Linked DNA regions of Homo sapiens. The protein of the gene in region 1 purifies or fractionates together with the protein of each later gene. This does not show direct contact. Each region holds a gene or a part of one and is shown on either strand. Other genes may lie near its edges.

What was found.
Region 2: the proteins of C1orf115 (region 1) and SMYD2 purify together in Homo sapiens (affinity purification with mass spectrometry; one large-scale study listed by BioGRID and IntAct). This does not show direct contact.
Region 3: the proteins of C1orf115 (region 1) and FAT3 purify together in Homo sapiens (affinity purification with mass spectrometry; one large-scale study listed by BioGRID and IntAct). This does not show direct contact.
Region 4: the proteins of C1orf115 (region 1) and ANKS3 purify together in Homo sapiens (affinity purification with mass spectrometry; one large-scale study listed by BioGRID and IntAct). This does not show direct contact.
Region 5: the proteins of C1orf115 (region 1) and KCMF1 purify together in Homo sapiens (affinity purification with mass spectrometry; one large-scale study listed by BioGRID and IntAct). This does not show direct contact.

The regions. Positions count from the first base shown.
Region 1 is NC_000001.11:220,688,978-220,693,164, forward strand, and holds the start of C1orf115 (required for drug-induced death protein 1), read left to right. Parts: upstream 1-1,385; 5' UTR 1,386-1,425; coding exon 1,426-1,734; intron 1,735-4,187. UniProt on the Homo sapiens protein: Regulates drug efflux through modulation of ABCB1 localization and activity.
Region 2 is NC_000001.11:214,287,654-214,291,171, forward strand, and holds part of SMYD2 (N-lysine methyltransferase SMYD2), read left to right. Parts: intron 1-3,518. UniProt on the Homo sapiens protein: Protein-lysine N-methyltransferase that methylates both histones and non-histone proteins, including p53/TP53 and RB1. Specifically trimethylates histone H3 'Lys-4' (H3K4me3) in vivo. The activity requires interaction with HSP90alpha.
Region 3 is NC_000011.10:92,350,303-92,353,820, forward strand, and holds part of FAT3 (protocadherin Fat 3 isoform 1 precursor), read left to right. Parts: intron 1-1,793; 5' UTR 1,794-1,810; coding exon 1,811-3,518.
Region 4 is NC_000016.10:4,706,764-4,710,281, forward strand, and holds part of ANKS3 (ankyrin repeat and SAM domain-containing protein 3), read right to left. Parts: intron 1-3,518. UniProt on the Homo sapiens protein: May be involved in vasopressin signaling in the kidney.
Region 5 is NC_000002.12:85,051,147-85,054,664, forward strand, and holds part of KCMF1 (E3 ubiquitin-protein ligase KCMF1), read left to right. Parts: intron 1-2,001; coding exon 2,002-2,263; 3' UTR 2,264-3,518. UniProt on the Homo sapiens protein: E3 ubiquitin-protein ligase which accepts ubiquitin from an E2 ubiquitin-conjugating enzyme and then transfers it to targeted substrates, promoting their degradation by the proteasome.

The DNA.
Region 1 (4,187 bases):
TTTTAGAAATGGGGCCTACGTTGCTCAGAACTCCTAGCCTCAAGGGATCCTCCCACCACAGCCTGTGGAGTTGCTGGGATTACAGGTGAAAGTCACCATGCTGGCTCACATTTTAAGTTGGAATCACAAAACTAATTTCTTTTGCATCCTAGTGAACTAAATTGTCGTAAACATTGTATGTGCTTATACCAACATATACACGTTATTCTTAAATTTAATCACAAACTTTAATGTTAAAATATCAGTGTATCTAACAATCTATGTTATTTTATACCTAAGTATTTTTTTGAGATGGGATCTCACTCTGTCGACCCCTTTGGAGCGCAGTGGCACAATCATAGCTCACTGCAATCTCCACCTTCCAGGATCAAGCGATCTCCCTACCTCACTGGGACTACAGGTAAACTTTTGTATTTGTTTTTCTATTTCTAGAGATGAGGTCTCCCTGTGTTGCCCAGGCTAGTCTCAAACTCCCAGGCCCAAGCGATCCTCCTGAATAGCTGGGATCACAGGTGTGCGCCCCTACGCCTGGCTAATTTTTTTTTTTTTTTCTAGAGATGGAGGTCTCACTATGTTGCCCAGGCTGTTCCCCAACTCCTGGGCTGAAGCTATCCTCCCGGCCTCTCAAAGTGCTGGGATTACAGGCGTGAGCCACTGCTTTCGGCCCTTAATTCTACATTAGCCAGAATTCAAAGGCATTTACCCACTTAAGAAAATAGGGCACTCTCAGCTTGTTGAGATTCACAGTACACTGATAATGCTTATCTCACAGAGAGATATTCCTGAAAATCATGATTTTAAAGACTGCGCCATATGCTGGCATGTCTGCACCAGAATTTCCTTTGCGCCTCCCTGTTGGTTTGCTCCACTTTTTCACTGAGTCAGACCGTTGAACACCGTGGACACACTGTCTTGCGTTTCCGAATATTTCCTAGAATACGGACGTTTCCTAAGACTCACGATAAAGATTTTCTGATCGTCTCTCCAAAACCTTGCCACCAATTTGCACTCCCACGAATCCTGTTACCGTGACTATCTCGCCATGCCCTCCCTAGCACTGAGCGTGATCTCTAGTATCATTTTCCATCGTTGCTAATTTGAACATGAGCAGATGGAGTCCTATTATTTGGGGTCATTAATTTCGTAGCAAGTGCAGTTGAAGGTGTTTTGCATGTTCATTGTGCAGTGCGCGCCGTAGTCTGCACAGTTTGGCCGGCAGGTGGGATGAAGGGCGGGGCTGGCGGAGCGCGCCCGCCGCCTGGTAGGCCAGTTCGGAGCGGAGCCAACGCTATCCCGGGCCCCACGGCCAGGGGGCGCTGCGGCCCCCCCAATCCCCCGCCCCGTCCGGGCTGGGGCGGAGGAGCGGGCGGGGACCAAAGGTTGGTGTCTTTGCGCTCGGACCTTCGCCAGAGGGGCCGGGACATCATGACGGTGGGAGCCAGGCTCCGAAGCAAGGCGGAGAGCAGCCTCCTGCGCCGCGGGCCCCGAGGGCGAGGGCGAACCGAGGGGGACGAGGAGGCGGCCGCCATCCTGGAGCACCTGGAGTACGCGGACGAGGCGGAGGCGGCGGCCGAGAGCGGGACGAGCGCGGCGGACGAGCGGGGCCCGGGGACCCGGGGCGCGCGGAGGGTGCACTTCGCCCTCCTGCCCGAGCGCTACGAGCCACTGGAGGAGCCGGCGCCGAGCGAGCAGCCCAGGAAGAGGTACCGGAGGAAGCTGAAGAAGTACGGCAAGGTAGGGGCCCTGCGCCACCACTGCCCGGGGGGCGCGGGTGTGGTGTCCCGCGGGGGAGCGGGAGCCGGGTCCTTACCATCGACTCACCCAGTTTCTCCGGGCTGCACCTGCGACCCCTCCGCCCCCGCTCCCATTCCCTCGCCGGAGGGAAGCCGCGAGTTGCGAGTCGTGATAGAAACTTAAATCGGGGGTTGCGCTGGGTGGTCCCTGCTGTGCCTGCTATTGCGCTCCTGGCTTCTTAAGAACATTCTCAAGGGGCTCCTACCGCGGTGGTTTTTATGTAAGATCAGGAATCAGTTTCCTGATTACAGATGGGAATACTGAAGCGTTAGCGCGGCAGGTGACTTGGAGAAGGTGGCCCAGTTGGAAAGAAAGAAATTGCAACCCAGTGTATTTGTTTTCCAGTAACATCCCCTCCAGGATATCCCACTAGTTGAGAAATGTTTGGGTTACTCTCCCAAATATTCCCAAGGTTATTTCCCGAGCCTGGGAGCGCAACAAATACATAAATAGGCGCTCGTTGAATTTTTCTCGTCTAGCCAACTATCAGTGTACTCTGGGGCCTTCAAAACATTCTGCCGTTTGTCTCGGGGAGATGGGGTTAGGAAGAATGAATATGGGAGAAAATGACAGTTTCCTTCGCGGAAATCAAAGCGCAGATGCAGTTCCCAGGTGTCTCTGCATGGAAACAGTCGAAGCTGCTGCCGGAAGCTCTGCTGGCCTGGACAAGGCCACCCAGAATAAAGTCACAGAAGTTACTGTGTCCTGGCCAAAGGCCACGGGCCCCATCTGATTTATTGTCTATTTATCTGTGTTGCCCAATGCCGTCTTACACCTGAAGCCATTCAGTCTCCATGCCTGGGAGCTTAGGTTTATCATCCTCTTTAAAGGTATGTCAGCAGCTTCTGGAGCAGAATACAGGCAGGGGTAAAACTATAAAGTTGGGTCTTTCAGGCTTAGAGCCCTGCTAGGACGATTCATCTCTGCTTTGGGTCCCAGTTGAGCACAAAGAAGCCATCATGTCCCTCTCCATTGGTGAACTGATACTGCAGAAACCTCAGCTCAAGGACTAGGACTTGAAGATATTTTGGGGGCACTCATTATGCGTCAGGCATTGTGCTGAGCAGTAGAGATGCGAAAATGAATACAGTGCAGCCCTGCCCTAGAGAAGGGCACAGCCTCCCAGGGAGACACTGACATAGCTGGCTCCCCCCGCCCCCGGGGGGGCTTCAGGGCACAGAGCTCAGGCAGTTCACTCCTCAGCGGTGAGCTTGTAAACTCAGGGAAGTTTTCAAATCACGGTGACATGAAAACTGGGCACAGAAGGATGAGTTAAGATTTCACCAGATAACAGTGAAGTGGTATGAAGTAGGCACACTTCATCCCCACTAGAACGGCTACTCCAAAAAATGTCCAAACAAACCGAATAACAAATGTTGGCGAGAATGTAGAGAAATTGGAACCATTGTACATTGCTGGTGGGAATGTAAAATGGGACAGCTGCTGTGGAAAACAATTTGGGAGTTCCTTAAAAAGTTCAGTGTAGACTTATTCTGTGATCTAGCAGTTCCACTCCTAGGGATGTAACCAAAGAATTGAAAACAGGTACTCAAATCAATGTTTATATACACATTTTAATGGAATTATTATTTACAATAGTCAAAAGGTGGAAACAACCCAAATGTCCCTAAATGGATGAATGCATAAACAAGTGTGTTATATACATACAATGGAATAGTATTCAGCCATAAAAGGAAGGAAATGTACTAATCCATGCTACAATATGATGAACCTCTAAAAATATTATGCTAAGTGAAGTAAACAAGACCCGCAAGATCACATATTGTGCGTATGATTCCATTTGTATGGAATGCTTAGGATAGGTCAACCCATGGAGATGGAACACAGATTGGTGGTTGCCAGGGACTGCGGGAAAGAGGAATGGAGCCCATCTGCTTAATGGGTAATGTGTTTTTTCCTGGGGATGATGAAAATGTTTTGGAACTAGATAGAAGTGGTGGTTGCACAACAATGTAAATGTACTAAATGCCACCGGGCTGTACGCACTTTAAAATGGTGAATTTTATGTTATGTGAATTTTGCCTTAACTAAAACAAACAAAAAAAACAAGATTTCAGTGGATAGAGAAGTGGTGTCATCTCAGGTAGAGGGGCCATCACAAGCCCAGCTGTGGGCATGAAAGCTCTAGAGTGTTGCACGCTAGTTCAATGGACCCAGGAGGCCAGGTGAGAGGATGTCGTCAGGTTAGGGTTGGATCTCTCCTTTCTGCCCTTCAAAAGTGACTTCAGCTTCTACTTTCTTGGAGCCACCTGAGAGGGTCACCAGGCTCAAACATGGAGATATAAAGCAGGTGACCCCTCTTTGTTCCCCGAGACCCCAGCTCCCCTCTGAGAGAGTAGTTGGGTAGAAAGCTCTACTCAGATCAAAGAATT
Region 2 (3,518 bases), 6.4 Mb from region 1:
GGTTCCCCAGAATTAATGATGGGGTCTGGGATTAGTTTTCAGTATTTTTCAAAACCTAATGGAAATAATATAATATACCTACACAGGTAAACCTTCTTCAAAAAAGAGCCTTTTCTCACTCCAAAGTCTTAGGCACTTTAATATTCTTTTAATAAGAAAAAACAAATATTTATAGAGAGAAATGGAAGAAAACAGAATTTTCCACATTGCAAGGATATCAGGGTTCCTTCTGCCTTTTACTTTCAGCACAATTGTTTCAACAGCAGCAAGGAGCCATCCTTTAAGACTTCAAATGTGCCAGTAACTCACGTTATTTTTCATATGCGGGGAACATAATTTCTGTTATAGCTTATAGGGGCTCAGTGACCAAGCTGCACGTTTGGAACCGATTTCAGATGAAAGAGACAGAATAACAGCAGGATATCCTGAAGTGAAATTCAAACCCTGGTGAGTTAAAACCACCATCTAACACCTTTCCCTCCCGAAGCAATTGCACAGAATCCTCTCAATCAAAAAAAATTCGAAGAACCTGTATAAAATGGCATTTCTTTAAATCATATTGCTCTTTGCAGCCCATAAAGCATTTCCAGATACATTCTTATTTTGATCCTTCCAAGGATGGCTGGTATACACAGGGCCTTATTCCATTTTACATAGAAAGAAACTGAGTGTTAGAGAAGTTAAGTGGTTTCTCTGAATTTCACACCTTTTTTGTCAAATATTTATTGAGTGCCTCTTAAAGGCCGGACTCCATGACCTTCAAGGATGGAGCCAAATCTCCCTGTTCCTCGTGTGATCTTCCTGTGCCCCCCTTTGGCCTGAACCTACTGTGTGGTTCACCCAGGGACTTCACCCTACATTACTACTGTGTGGTTCCCTGGAGACTGGGGGCTTAATCCGTCTCTGATATCTCCTTGATTGAATAGAATTTATAATTGGCCAACAATTTAACAAACGAATGCATTGTTTAAAGAATTATTTAAAGTTTTAAAAAATGTTTGATTCAGCCATCTTAGATCTATATTTTATGCTGATATGGACTTAAACATGTTGTTTTTATTATAATGCTTTGAAATTTGCATAAGAGCTACACATATTCTTTTATATGTATGAATTATTATGTAATAAAACATAAAAAGAACATGAGGCTTTGGTCCTTTTGTAGGCTTGGAATATTTTTAATATTACGCTAGGACTAAACCAGAGTTAGTCATCTCAGCCTTTATACCTACATATAAAGAGTTTGTTTCTGTGCCGTGTGATAGGGCAGCATCAGCCCATAGTCTTTTTTTTTTTTTTTTCCTTAAGCAAATCCATTCTTCAGGATCTCTCTCTGCAGAAGTTAAATCTCTTGAGTTGTGGAAATGGAATTTATGGTGCAGCTATAGGAGGCAGCCCCTGGTTGGTATTCCTGTAGAACAGGCAAGTTGCACACCACCTGTGAGAAGGTTCTTGTAAAAATATGTTAAATTTCTTTGAGAAGATCCAGGGCTCACTGCTATAGTTTGGCAGGAACCTGGTCTTTGGGAGAACTCAGAATTGGTGAGAATTCAGGACAGCAAAATTGTCTCTTTTAGGATTTGATATAGTGAGAGAATTGCAAAGGAAGTTTCTACTGTATTTGGGTGTTTTAGGCTTACTGCTTTGAACTTAGGTTAATATTCCCTCCTCTTTTCCCTGTCAGTATAAAAATATGAAATAATTACTGTTTTATGCCACTTTATTTCTGTCCTCGAAGGAAGCAATCAATAATTAAAAGCATGCTTTGTCTTCCTGGAGTCATGAATAATTAAATTGACTCCCCCCATCCACACACATCTTTTTTTGGACCTCAGATGTAGTTGAGGTAATCATACTTCTGAGTTCAAGGCATGCTTTTATCTGGTATATGCAAGGCAAATTTGATTTTTCAGAATGTTCCCTCTCATTTCCTGCTCTTCTCACAGACAGCTCCTCTATGGGTTTGGTTACGTATCTTTGAATACATGTGTATGTGTGTCCTGATGATCACTAGGGAACTAGACACACCTAGAACAAGGCACCCTGATTTTACTTGGCAGATTCAGACCTTGAGCTCTCTTCTGATCCTCCTGCTCACTCAGCGTTTTTCTGTGGCTGTGTCAGGGCAGGGGCCCCTGCACTGGCCCCTTCCTCCTGATGAGTGGCCTGTTCTGACACTTGAGGGAGGCAGGGCATTTTGAGGTCTCCTTTGCCTCTCAGGAACTTGCATTGTTAGCCCACCCACATCCCCAACCTTCACTTCTTTGGATTTCTAGGAAATCTGCAGTAGTTTAGGGGTGCAGTCCTTTGGCAGGGAATTAACTGAAGTACCTGCCTTTTCAGGGGTTGAACCCATGACCTTGGCCTCATTAGAGCTCTAACCAGTCACAAAGCACACACCTCACTTTGTGTAACTTCTGCTGACTTGTTCCTGCCACCCTCCGCGGCTTCCTATTCAATTGCAAAGGCGTTCACACCAACACAATAGAACAGAAGGAAATCAGATCTCTTCAAGACTTCTCTGAAGGACAGAAATATGCAATTTAGCAGGAAAATAATACAAAAAAGTCTTGAAGGTTCAGGAAACAACTTATCTTTCTAGTCCGTACATTCGCTGAGAATCCAGCTGTGTCTCTCAGATTCTTTTTCAATCAAAAATTTAAAAATAGCGTGGAACTCCTTGTGTTAATTTATTAACATAAAATCTAGCGACTCTTGTACATGAAGTGGAAGGTTTCGGATGACTAAGTGGAAATATTGTATGTATGTTATTAAAATGGATTGGGTTAGCTTTTATAGAAAAAGTGGATCTGAGAATTCATAAGTGCTTATCTTTGGCAAGTTTATAGTCCCTAGAGATAAAAATGAATGCGTGCTATAATAACAAAGACACTGTTGTGTCTTAGTGAGTGCACTGTGATGCTCAGGGTGTGTTGGTGCCCAGGGGACGCGGAGTCACCATGGAGGAGAGGAGAAACAAGGACAACTCCCTAGAGAAGTGAAATTCACACAGGGCTTGAAGACCTGAATGTATCTTGGGGGAGGGACGTGGTAAGATAATCTGGCTGTCCAAAAAGATACAGGTTTTTATTAGAGCCAAATAAAAAGCTCAAGGATTTTATGTCTTGGCACTTGGAAGGAGTTATGTTGAAATCTGTGTTCTGTTTAATCTGAGTACCAAGAAAGACTCTTCAGGGATGTAGGTACTGGCTCATATTTTTGATGAGATGGGGATTTTTCTTACTCTGGTGATGTTTGGATAGGAAACATTTGCTCATTTGCCACCTGAAAAATCTCTTCTCTGTCAATTCCGTGAATCCATGGTACAGTGACAGTTGCTGTTCACAGTGATAGCCTCATATGCTCTTAAAACCTCACCAATAAGACACATTTAATTATGAGCCAATAGTATACTCCCTAAGGGTAGGAATTCTACTTTTTAACTCAATCAAAAACATTTGTATTTGTGGACACTTAGTGGGTTCTATAGTTCTGGAAAACAACTCCAAAGAAAAGGA
Region 3 (3,518 bases), on another chromosome or scaffold:
TTTATAAACCATACAATTTGTAATATTTTAATATGTTAAACTCCTGTAGGGATTTTTTTTTTTTTCAGTTTGCAGCCAATAACTAGAACTACATTAAAACCAGAGAGGAGATAACCAAAAAGATATGCTGGGGGCAGGGATGGGTTGTACTTTTTAAAATCAATGACATATGTTGACTATTTCATTAGAATTAAATTATGTCATATATGCTTCTAGGATCCTTAATTATTTCATTCTTGCTTGCAGGTAATTTTGAGAGAGTGATTGTGTGATGGGGAAAAGCATGGATTTTAGAGAAAGATTAAGGTCTGAGATCCTGCTTTACTACTTGCCGGCTGGGGAACATTGTTTGGGCAAATGTCTCAACTAAATAGATTAACTTCTCTGACCCTCAGTTTTCTAATATGTCATTGGGTAAAATAGTACCTATTACTTAGGATTATCATGAAGATTAAATACAACAAAGTGGAAAAATGACTGACACAGTGCCTACATCATTACATGCCTGCAAAGAAATTCATTTTCCATCTCCTCTCATCTTCACGTTCCCTGTAAAGGAAGAAAAGGAGAATGTCAAGGGCTTGCAGAGTATAAGACTGGATGGAAGAACTCATATTTGGGGGTTCTAAAAATCTGATCCTTTGGGTATGAATAGACTTAACTTTTTCTTGTTGAATACCTCCTTTCTCCCTTCTCCTTGATTGATTTTACTGGCTAAAATAGGAAAAAGTTTGTATCTTTTAACCCACATAGTCATGAAACTGTAGAAACTGTCCAAATTTAATAGTCATTGATGAAAGTAATTGGAAGTATCTCTTGTAATTTCTAAAGTTTTTCTTGCAAGTAATCACTCTTACCTCCCTTGTTCTGAATAGTTCTGGATATCACTCCAGTCATATAACTCCTTAGGGATTATTGTCTCTGCTTTGTAACTTGACACTTTGTTCATTCTCATGGCATTGCATTATTCATAAACCTTGATCAGTTTAAAAGTAAGCACAATAAAAGATGGTAATACCTTGAAGCATTTTAAAAAGATTATAATTATAAAAGTAATTATGTAACTATTGATGAACAATGTTCATTGAAGAAAAGTTAGAAAATGCAAATATGCCACCAAATCCCAAAACACAGTTAATCCTTTTTAAATATAAAAATTCATTTGCACATATAGGTGTTTATATAATAATAGAACTCATGCTATATATACTGTTTGATGACCTTTTTTCCTTAGCATTACATCTTACTGCATCTGAAAATGCACATCTTTTATGTCTCTATTTTTAATGACTGCATAATATTTTATTTTATGAATACACCATGAATTATTCAGTCCTCTATTGATAGGCATTTAGCATCTCTTCATTTTTTTTTTACTTTAAACTGTGCTATAACAGATAATTGTCTAAATGTTTCTATAGGATAATTACTGCAAAGGCAGTTCTAAGTCAAAGGTAAATGCACTTAAGGCTTCCAATATATCTCTAAATTGACCTTCAGAATGTAAGAAATCTTGTACCAATGAACAACGCTGTCAGTAGTATAAAAGTGTTATTTAAAACAAAGTGTCACTTGAAAACAATTCTTACAAGATTGGGCTAAATTCTAGTAATCTTAAGTTCCTTATTACCTAGTAGTGGCAAGGTTTCTAATTTTTTCTTATATTGCTGTTTTAGTAAAAAGATTTTGTGATAAAGTTTTAAAAAGCATGGCTTCCTAATAGTTATTTCCCACTCTCCCCCTTCTTCTAGGATGGTTAATTTATCTTTTCTCTCTCTCTTTCTTCCCTCCAGGATGGAAGTATGATGTGATGGATATAATTATGGGACACTGTGTGGGCACACGGCCTCCTGCTTGTTGCCTCATCCTCCTGCTTTTCAAGCTTTTGGCCACTGTCTCCCAGGGGCTGCCAGGGACTGGACCCCTGGGCTTCCACTTCACACATTCCATTTATAATGCTACCGTGTATGAGAACTCAGCAGCAAGGACCTACGTCAACAGCCAGAGTAGAATGGGCATCACCTTAATAGATCTATCCTGGGATATCAAATACAGAATAGTGTCCGGAGACGAGGAAGGCTTTTTCAAAGCAGAGGAAGTCATCATTGCAGATTTCTGTTTTCTCAGAATAAGAACTAAAGGTGGCAATTCTGCCATATTAAATAGGGAAATCCAGGATAATTATTTATTGATAGTAAAAGGTTCTGTCAGAGGAGAGGATTTGGAAGCATGGACCAAAGTGAATATACAGGTTTTAGATATGAATGATCTGAGACCTTTGTTTTCACCCACAACATACTCTGTTACCATAGCAGAAAGCACACCTCTAAGGACTAGTGTTGCCCAGGTGACTGCAACAGACGCAGATATTGGTTCCAATGGAGAATTCTACTACTACTTTAAAAATAAAGTTGATCTCTTTTCAGTTCACCCCACGAGTGGTGTCATCTCCTTAAGTGGTCGATTAAATTATGATGAAAAGAATAGGTATGATCTGGAAATTTTGGCTGTGGACCGGGGAATGAAACTGTATGGGAACAATGGAGTGAGCAGTACTGCAAAGCTTTATGTTCACATTGAGCGCATAAATGAACATGCCCCAACAATCCATGTAGTCACTCATGTTCCTTTCTCGTTGGAAAAAGAGCCAACATATGCAGTGGTGACAGTTGATGACTTAGATGATGGAGCGAATGGAGAGATCGAATCTGTTTCCATTGTGGCTGGGGATCCTTTAGATCAGTTCTTCCTGGCTAAGGAAGGAAAGTGGTTGAATGAGTACAAGATTAAGGAGAGGAAGCAGATTGACTGGGAGAGCTTTCCCTATGGCTACAATCTCACTCTTCAAGCAAAAGACAAGGGATCTCCTCAAAAATGTTCAGCATTAAAGGCAGTCTACATTGGCAACCCCACAAGAGACACTGTCCCCATTAGATTTGAAAAAGAAGTGTACGATGTGAGCATAAGTGAATTTTCCCCTCCTGGTGTCGTGGTTGCTATAGTAAAATTAAGTCCTGAACCGATAGATGTGGAATACAAATTATCTCCTGGTGAGGATGCAGTGTACTTTAAAATTAATCCTCGGTCGGGTCTGATTGTTACAGCACGGCCACTGAATACTGTTAAGAAGGAGGTTTATAAACTGGAGGTGACAAACAAGGAAGGAGATTTAAAAGCACAGGTCACCATCAGCATAGAAGATGCAAATGACCACACCCCAGAATTTCAGCAACCACTGTATGATGCTTATGTGAATGAAAGTGTCCCAGTGGGAACCAGCGTTCTAACAGTTTCAGCTTCTGATAAGGATAAAGGAGAAAATGGGTACATCACCTATAGTATCGCTAGCCTGAATTTGTTACCATTTGTCATTAATCAGTTTACAGGTGTTATTAGCACAACTGAAGAACTGGATTTTGAATCCTCCCCAGAAATTTACAGATTCATTGTTAGAGCCTCTGACTGGGGTTCACCATACCGCCATGAAAGTGAGGTCAATGTGACTATTCGAATAGGAA
Region 4 (3,518 bases), on another chromosome or scaffold:
GCTGGGGCAGAAATGAAGGGAAAGGTCCTTTGCATTACCACCTGAGCTGTGTTTATTATGAAACAATCCCAATGCCAGGGAAGAGGCTGGGCTGAGCCTGACACTGAGAAAGGAGCTGCTCGCTCAGGTGCAAACTGACAGGACAACTCAGGGCAGGCCAGCAAAGAGGGAGAGCTCAGGCCCTGAACGTGGGCCACTCTGTCCTTCCCCATGACGAGGCTCAAGCTCTGGCGACTGAGCTAGCCATATGGACACACACCTCCTCACACTCAAAGATCTATAGCACTCCAGGGAGACTGTGCTTCCATCCAAGCTGAAGGGGAGGGAGCTGTAAGACAAATGCAAAGAGGCAGCAATAAGCAAGGGAACGGCAGCTGCGTGAATCTCAGCACCCAACACACCCTCAGAGCAGCTTAAAAAGAACAGGCAGATGGAAACCACAAAAGAGCCAGGGCTGCAATCCTGCTATCAACGTGGAATTCAGGGCAAAACACATTAAATATGACACGGAAGGACACTTTTTTTTTTTTTTTTTTGAAACAGAGTTTCACTCCGTCACCTAGGCTGGAGTGCAGTGGCACAATCTCGGCTCATTGTAACCTCCGCCTCCCGGGTTCAAGTGATTCTCCTGCCTCAGCCTCCCGAGTAGCTGGGATTGTAAGTATGTGCCACCATGCCTGGCTAATTTGTGTATTTTGAGTAGAGACAAGGTTTCACCATGTAGGCTGGACTGGTCTCGAACTCCTGACCTCAGGGGATCTGCCCGCCTTGGCCTCCCAAAGTGCTCGGATTACAGGTATGGGCCATGCCCAGCCAGAAGGACACTTCTAATACTAAAAGCCATAATTCACAGTGAATCTATAACAAGTTATGAAAATCTGTCACCAAAAAATGCACCAACTTCCTTCATAAATCAGAAACACGCTAATAGGTAATTTTGTAGAAAATGAACTAAGAGTACATAATCCTAAATAAGATAGACTCACAGATATGCTAAACTGTATACAGATAATAGAGAATACAACTTCTCAAGCAAAACACGGAACACTAAAAAATATTGATCAGGGCCGGGCGCGGTGGCTCACGCCTGTAATCCCAGCACTTTGGGAGGCCGAGGTGGGCGGATCACTTGAGGTCAGGACTTCAAGACCAACCTGGCCAACATGGTGAAACCCTGTCCCTACTAAAAATACAAAAAAAAATGAGCCAGGCGTGGTGGCAGATGCCTGGAATCCCAACTACTCGGGAGGCTGAGGCAGGAGAGTCGCTTGAACCTGGGAGGCAGAGGTTGCAGTGAGTCAAGATCGCACTTGGGCACTCCAGCCTGGGTGACAGAGTGAGACTACATCTGAAAAAAATATATATATATATAGATAGATCAGTAGATGATAAATAAGATGACAAGGAAGTTATGTAAATGTAAGAATTATAAACACTCTCTGATCAGACACATTAAAGTTAATCAGAATAACATGAGAAATTAATTGCAAGATCAAAAAGGCCCTTCCATCTAGAAATTAACAAACAAAAACAATCATAATACTTCTATTAGACAACTCCTGGGTGAAGGAGAAAATATAAATAAAAATTACAGAATTTCTAAAAATAACAAGGAAAGTATTAAATACAGAACCCCCAGAATACACTTAAAGCAGCAATCAGCAAAAATTCACAGCCTCTAACATTTAGCAACAAAAGGGCAACAATGAAAATGAAAGAAGTTTCCAACTCAAAAAACTAGAACAACAAAGTAAGCCAAATAAAAATAAAAGCAGAAATTAAACAGACAATCAGTAGGTCTCATTAATAAATCAAAATCCGATGGGTTTTTCTTGTTTTTCCACTAAACAGACAAAGTACTAGTATTTAACTTAAGAAAAAAAGGAAGAGGCTGCGCACGGTGGCTCACACCTGTAATTCTAGCAGTTTGGGAGGCCGAGGTGGGCAGATCACGAGGTGAGGAGATCGAGACCATCCTGGCTAACACAGTGAAACCCTGTCTCTACTAAAAATACAAAAAAAAAATTAGCCAGGTGTGGTGGTGGGCACCCTGTAGTCCCAGCTACTCAAAAGGCTGAGGCAGGAGAATCGCTTGAACCTGGGAGGCGGGGGTTGCAGTGAGCCGAGATCGCGCCACTGCACTCCAGCCTGGGCAACAGAGCGAGACTCTGTCTCAAAAAAAAAAAAAGAACAAACACAAATATTCAAAATAAGAAGTGAGGCCGGGCGCAGTGGCTCATGCCTATAATCTCAGCACTGTGGGAGACTGAGGTGGGAGGATCGCTTGGGCCCAGGAGTTTGAGACCAGCCTGGGCAACATACTGAGACACTGTCTCTATTTTTTTTAATAGAAGAAATTTTTGCCGGGTGCAGCGGTTCATGCCTGTAATCCCAGCACTTTGGGAGGCCGAGTCGGGTGGACCACCTTATGTCGGGAGTTCGAGACCACCCTGACCAACATGGAGAAACCCTGTCTCTCCCAAAAATGCAAAATTAGCCAGACGTGGTGGCACATGCCTGTAATCCCAGCTACTAGGGAGGCTGAGGCAGGAGAATCGCTTGAACCCGGGAGGTGGAGGTTGCAGTGAGCCAAGATCGTGCCATTGCACTCCAGCCTAGGAAACAAGAGCGAAACTCCATCTCAAAAAAAAAAAAAAATTAAAAAATATAAGAAATGAGATCCAGCAATTCCACTACTGGGTATTTATCCAAAAGAAAGGAAATCAGTATACCAAAGAGATGTCTACACCCTCATGTTTACTGCCGCAGTATTCACAGTAGCCTAGATAGAGAATCAACCTGTGTCCATCAGTGGATGAACGAAGACAGAAAATGAGTTTATATACACAATTGAATATTATTCAGACATAAAGAATGAAATCTGATCATTTGTGGCAACATGAATAAGCCTGGAAGAGACTATGTTCAGTAAAATAAGCCAGACATAGAAAAGAAAGACAAATGCCAGCTGTTGTGGTGACTCACACTTGTAATCCCAACACTCTGGGAGGCCAAGGCGAGAGGATCACTTGAGCCCAGGAGTTCAAAACCAACCTGGTCAGTATAGCAAGACCCCGTCTCTACAAAAAAATAAAACATTAGCCAGGTGTGGTGGTAGGTGCCTGTAGTGCCAGCTACTCGGGAGGCTGAGATAGGAGGATCACTTGAGCCCAGGAATTGGAGGCTGCAGTGAGCCAAGATTATGCCACCACACTCCAGCCTGGGTGACAAAGCGAGAACCTGTCTCAAAAACCAAACAAACAACAAAAAAGACTACATGACTACATGATGTCACCCATTTACAGGATTTTTAAAAGCTCATGTCAAACATGTAGAGTAGAATAGTGATTATCAGAGGTTGGGGGTGGGGAGGTAGTGGGAGAGATTGGTCAATAGGTGTAAAATTACAGATCGAAGAAAGAAGTTCTGGTGTTCACAGTAGAGTGACTATACGGAACAACAGCTTATACCTCAAAATAGCTACTAGAAGACATGATTTTAAATGTTCTCACCTCGAA
Region 5 (3,518 bases), on another chromosome or scaffold:
TTTGAATTATCTCTGCAAGGTCAGTAACTGTGCCTGGTTATTACCAGATAATGCTGCTTTAATGTAAGAAAACCACAGAGCCACAGATGGAGCTACCTGCTGCCATGTAGCCTTCCCCATAGGGACTGACCAGCAGCAGGTCTATAACATACCAGATCTAAGTCCCTACCTCAAAAAGGAGATCTACTAGCGTGCATTTCTACTGAGAGTTCACAGAACTGTGGGTGGAATGTCTTGCCAGTGCCCTTTGGAAAAGACATCTTCCTACCCACCCTTGCCCTATCCTTTTTTTTTTTAAGACCCAAACTACTCAGCTTGATCTGTAATTTTTTTCTGTGCATTTATTCCACACCCAACTCTCAGAGCATGGTATGAGTGACCTCTGAGTGCTGTCTGTGGATTCTGGTTGTAGCTTCTTGAAATCCCCCTTCTATCATCTGATACTGTACATTCTATGGTACCATGCAGTTTGCAAACCACTTTCCACATCTTTTATTGTATTATATTCATATGATTTATTTAAGGCAATATTTCCCCAGAAATACTCTCTTAACTTCATATATTCAAAGGAATATATGTAATTACTTATGTTCTTCCACCCCCAATTAATAAGGTTGCAGAAAGCAAAGTAAGGAAAATTAAGAGATTATTTACTGTTGGGCTTCTTAGAACTTCAAATATATTAACATGCATTGTGAATTTTCAAGGCAAGGAGAACGGCTGCAGTGTATGCAGGGGAGATCCTGCTCTCTGGTCACACAGCTCTTATGTGATATATATAGGGCCCAAGCCTTATTTTTGGTCTTTTCTTTGACCAGGGGCAGTTCCTATTCATGTTGCCCTGCAACTGATGGTAAGGTCACAGTTTCTTTGAAGTCCAAGATAGTTGACCTTTTAGAAAGTGATTATTGGAGTGTGTAAGTCAGATCGGTCTTTTTTTGAGATAGAATTTCGCTCTTGTTGCCCAAGCTGGAGTGCAATGGCACGATCTCGGCTCACTGCAACCACCGCCTCCCAGGTTTAAGCGATTCTCCTACTTCAGCCTCCCGAGTAGCTGGGATTATAGGCACGCACCCCCACACCTGGCTAATTTTTTGTATTTTTAGTAGAAATGGGGTTTCACCACATTAGCCAGGCTGGTCTCAAACTCCTGACCTCAGGTGATCCGCCCGCCTTGGCCTCCCAAAGTGCTGGGATTACAGTCATGAGCCACCGTGCCTGGCCAGATCTAATCTTTTGACAGTGGGACCAGTTCATTTTGCTAACCCCAACTTGAAGATCCTCACAAGCCTTGCAGTTTCATTTATATCCTAAATGTTATATTTCATCAAGAAATTTGTCTAGTCTCTGTGCAGATGAGCCAGGTTTCCCAGCATAGCCCAGATCTCATAAGTACATGCATCAGGGGAGCAAGTCAGGCAGGTAGACCTTGTGTCTGCCCTGCTACACTGTAGGTCCTTGGTAGAAGAAATGTAGGAGTTTGTATGTATGTGTTTTCTTGCCCTTTCTAGCTTCTGCATATACCAAGAAGAATTAAATAGAGTAATAGAGAAAAGTCAGAGGAAATCTTAGGATATTTTTCAGTTGAATATTCTGTTCACTGCAGATTTTGTTTTTGTGTTTTATTTTCCTCTTTTTATTTACCCCCAGATGAAATTCTGGTTAGATACTTTCCCAAGCATCTAATCTGTAAGAAATCCTGTTTTCCTTAGAAAATTTTCACCTAGCTTTCTCTGGAGTGGAAAAAGTCTAAATGTCTTTTTTTTTCTCATTGAGTCTAATTAAAGCATAGATTTGCACCTCCAGGTAACAGTATTGCAACAAGTGTGGGGAATTCGTCTCAACACAATTAAGGATAAATTACAGCCAAGTATTCCAGCAATGTCTCATTCTGAATTTTGCCACCTGTAAAACTTCACAGTGGAGAGCACTGTAGAAATTGGCCATGCCATTGTTCATTGACTTTTTAACAATAAGGTCTTTTCTTTTTAACTTACACAGGTTGAATGATCCTAAAATGTCTGAAACGGAGCGCCAGTCCATGGAAAGCGAGCGTGCAGACCGCAGCCTGTTTGTCCAAGAGCTCCTTCTGTCCACTTTAGTGCGTGAAGAGAGCTCATCCTCAGATGAGGATGATCGGGGGGAGATGGCAGATTTTGGTGCTATGGGCTGTGTAGATATTATGCCTTTAGATGTTGCTTTAGAAAACCTAAATTTAAAAGAGAGTAATAAAGGAAATGAGCCTCCACCACCTCCTCTTTGATGACATCCCAATTCGCAGACAATGTCCTCTGTGCTGTATTTGCCAATGAAAGTGGACAACAACTATCTTGGGTTTGTTTGGTGATTGTAATTTCAGGTCTGTCACTCTTGTTACATTGTGTACATTCAAAAGGAAGAGAGAAAATATATATGATAATCATTTCCACTTAACTAATTTTTACTTCTAGCAGGTAAATGTAGGTAGCAGTGCAGGGGTGATCTCTGCTTCCTGTACCTTGACATGCAAAAGGCTCTCCTAATACTCCACATTCAAACTGAAGAGGAAAATTGAAATCTCTAATGAAGCTGCTGTGTGTATTTATGAATATTAATGAATAAAAACTGCTTGGATGGTTTACCTTAACTACTGCATGAGGTTTTTTGCAGCGTGCATGAGTTTTAGTGACCTTGTTATTTAAGAAGTTAAATACAAGGAGTAAAACTTAAAAAAAAAATACAAAGCCCAAAGCTTTCCCAAACATTATTCAATGGTTACACGACGAAGTAGCTTTTGAATAATGTCTGCCTGAATCACCTTTCTTTGTGTGCCTCCTACGCACAAAGCCAGCTCTGCAGTGGAATCTGGGGATTATAGCCGGGTGTGGCACTCCGCCCTGTGTGACTGTCCTGTCGCCCTGTTAGTCATCTTGCCTGTGTGGAGCTCAGCCTGTCTCTTTAACTCATCTGTAGAAGACACACCAGTAAAGCTACTGTTGGAATCTGCTGCAGGGGCCTTTGTGTGCCCTAAAAACAAATCCTGTTCATGTTTGTTTAAAGTTTTTACTTTTTGTGGTTGTTTAAAATTTTTTCAATTGTTAAATATGTTTTATTCAGGTGTAGATGAATTTCATTTATTGACTGTTCAACAGAGTTAACCTGAATTATGTTGTCTTTGTTTTTAAAAATCTCACATTCTCAATCATATTTTGCATTATTTATGTATTTGCTTTGTAGTTTGCTGAGACAGATCAGTATCAGGGGAGCTTTGAGGATTTGCCTTCCCAGATTTGTCAGTATATTACAACCAAATTCTTAATGCTAATTTTAGCACCTTTTATTTATTGGGTTTTTTCTGGCATAAAAAGTAAAGCCTTTTAATTGAATCATGCCACCTATATGCCTATATTATTAATCCTATGTGTAAAAAAAATGTACAGCTTTTTTTGGGTTTGTTTTGGGGTTTGGAAGGGCCGGGTTATTTTTTATTTCCTGTTTCAGTTTTTGTGCATAGACTTTCACAATAGCTCCAAGGCAGG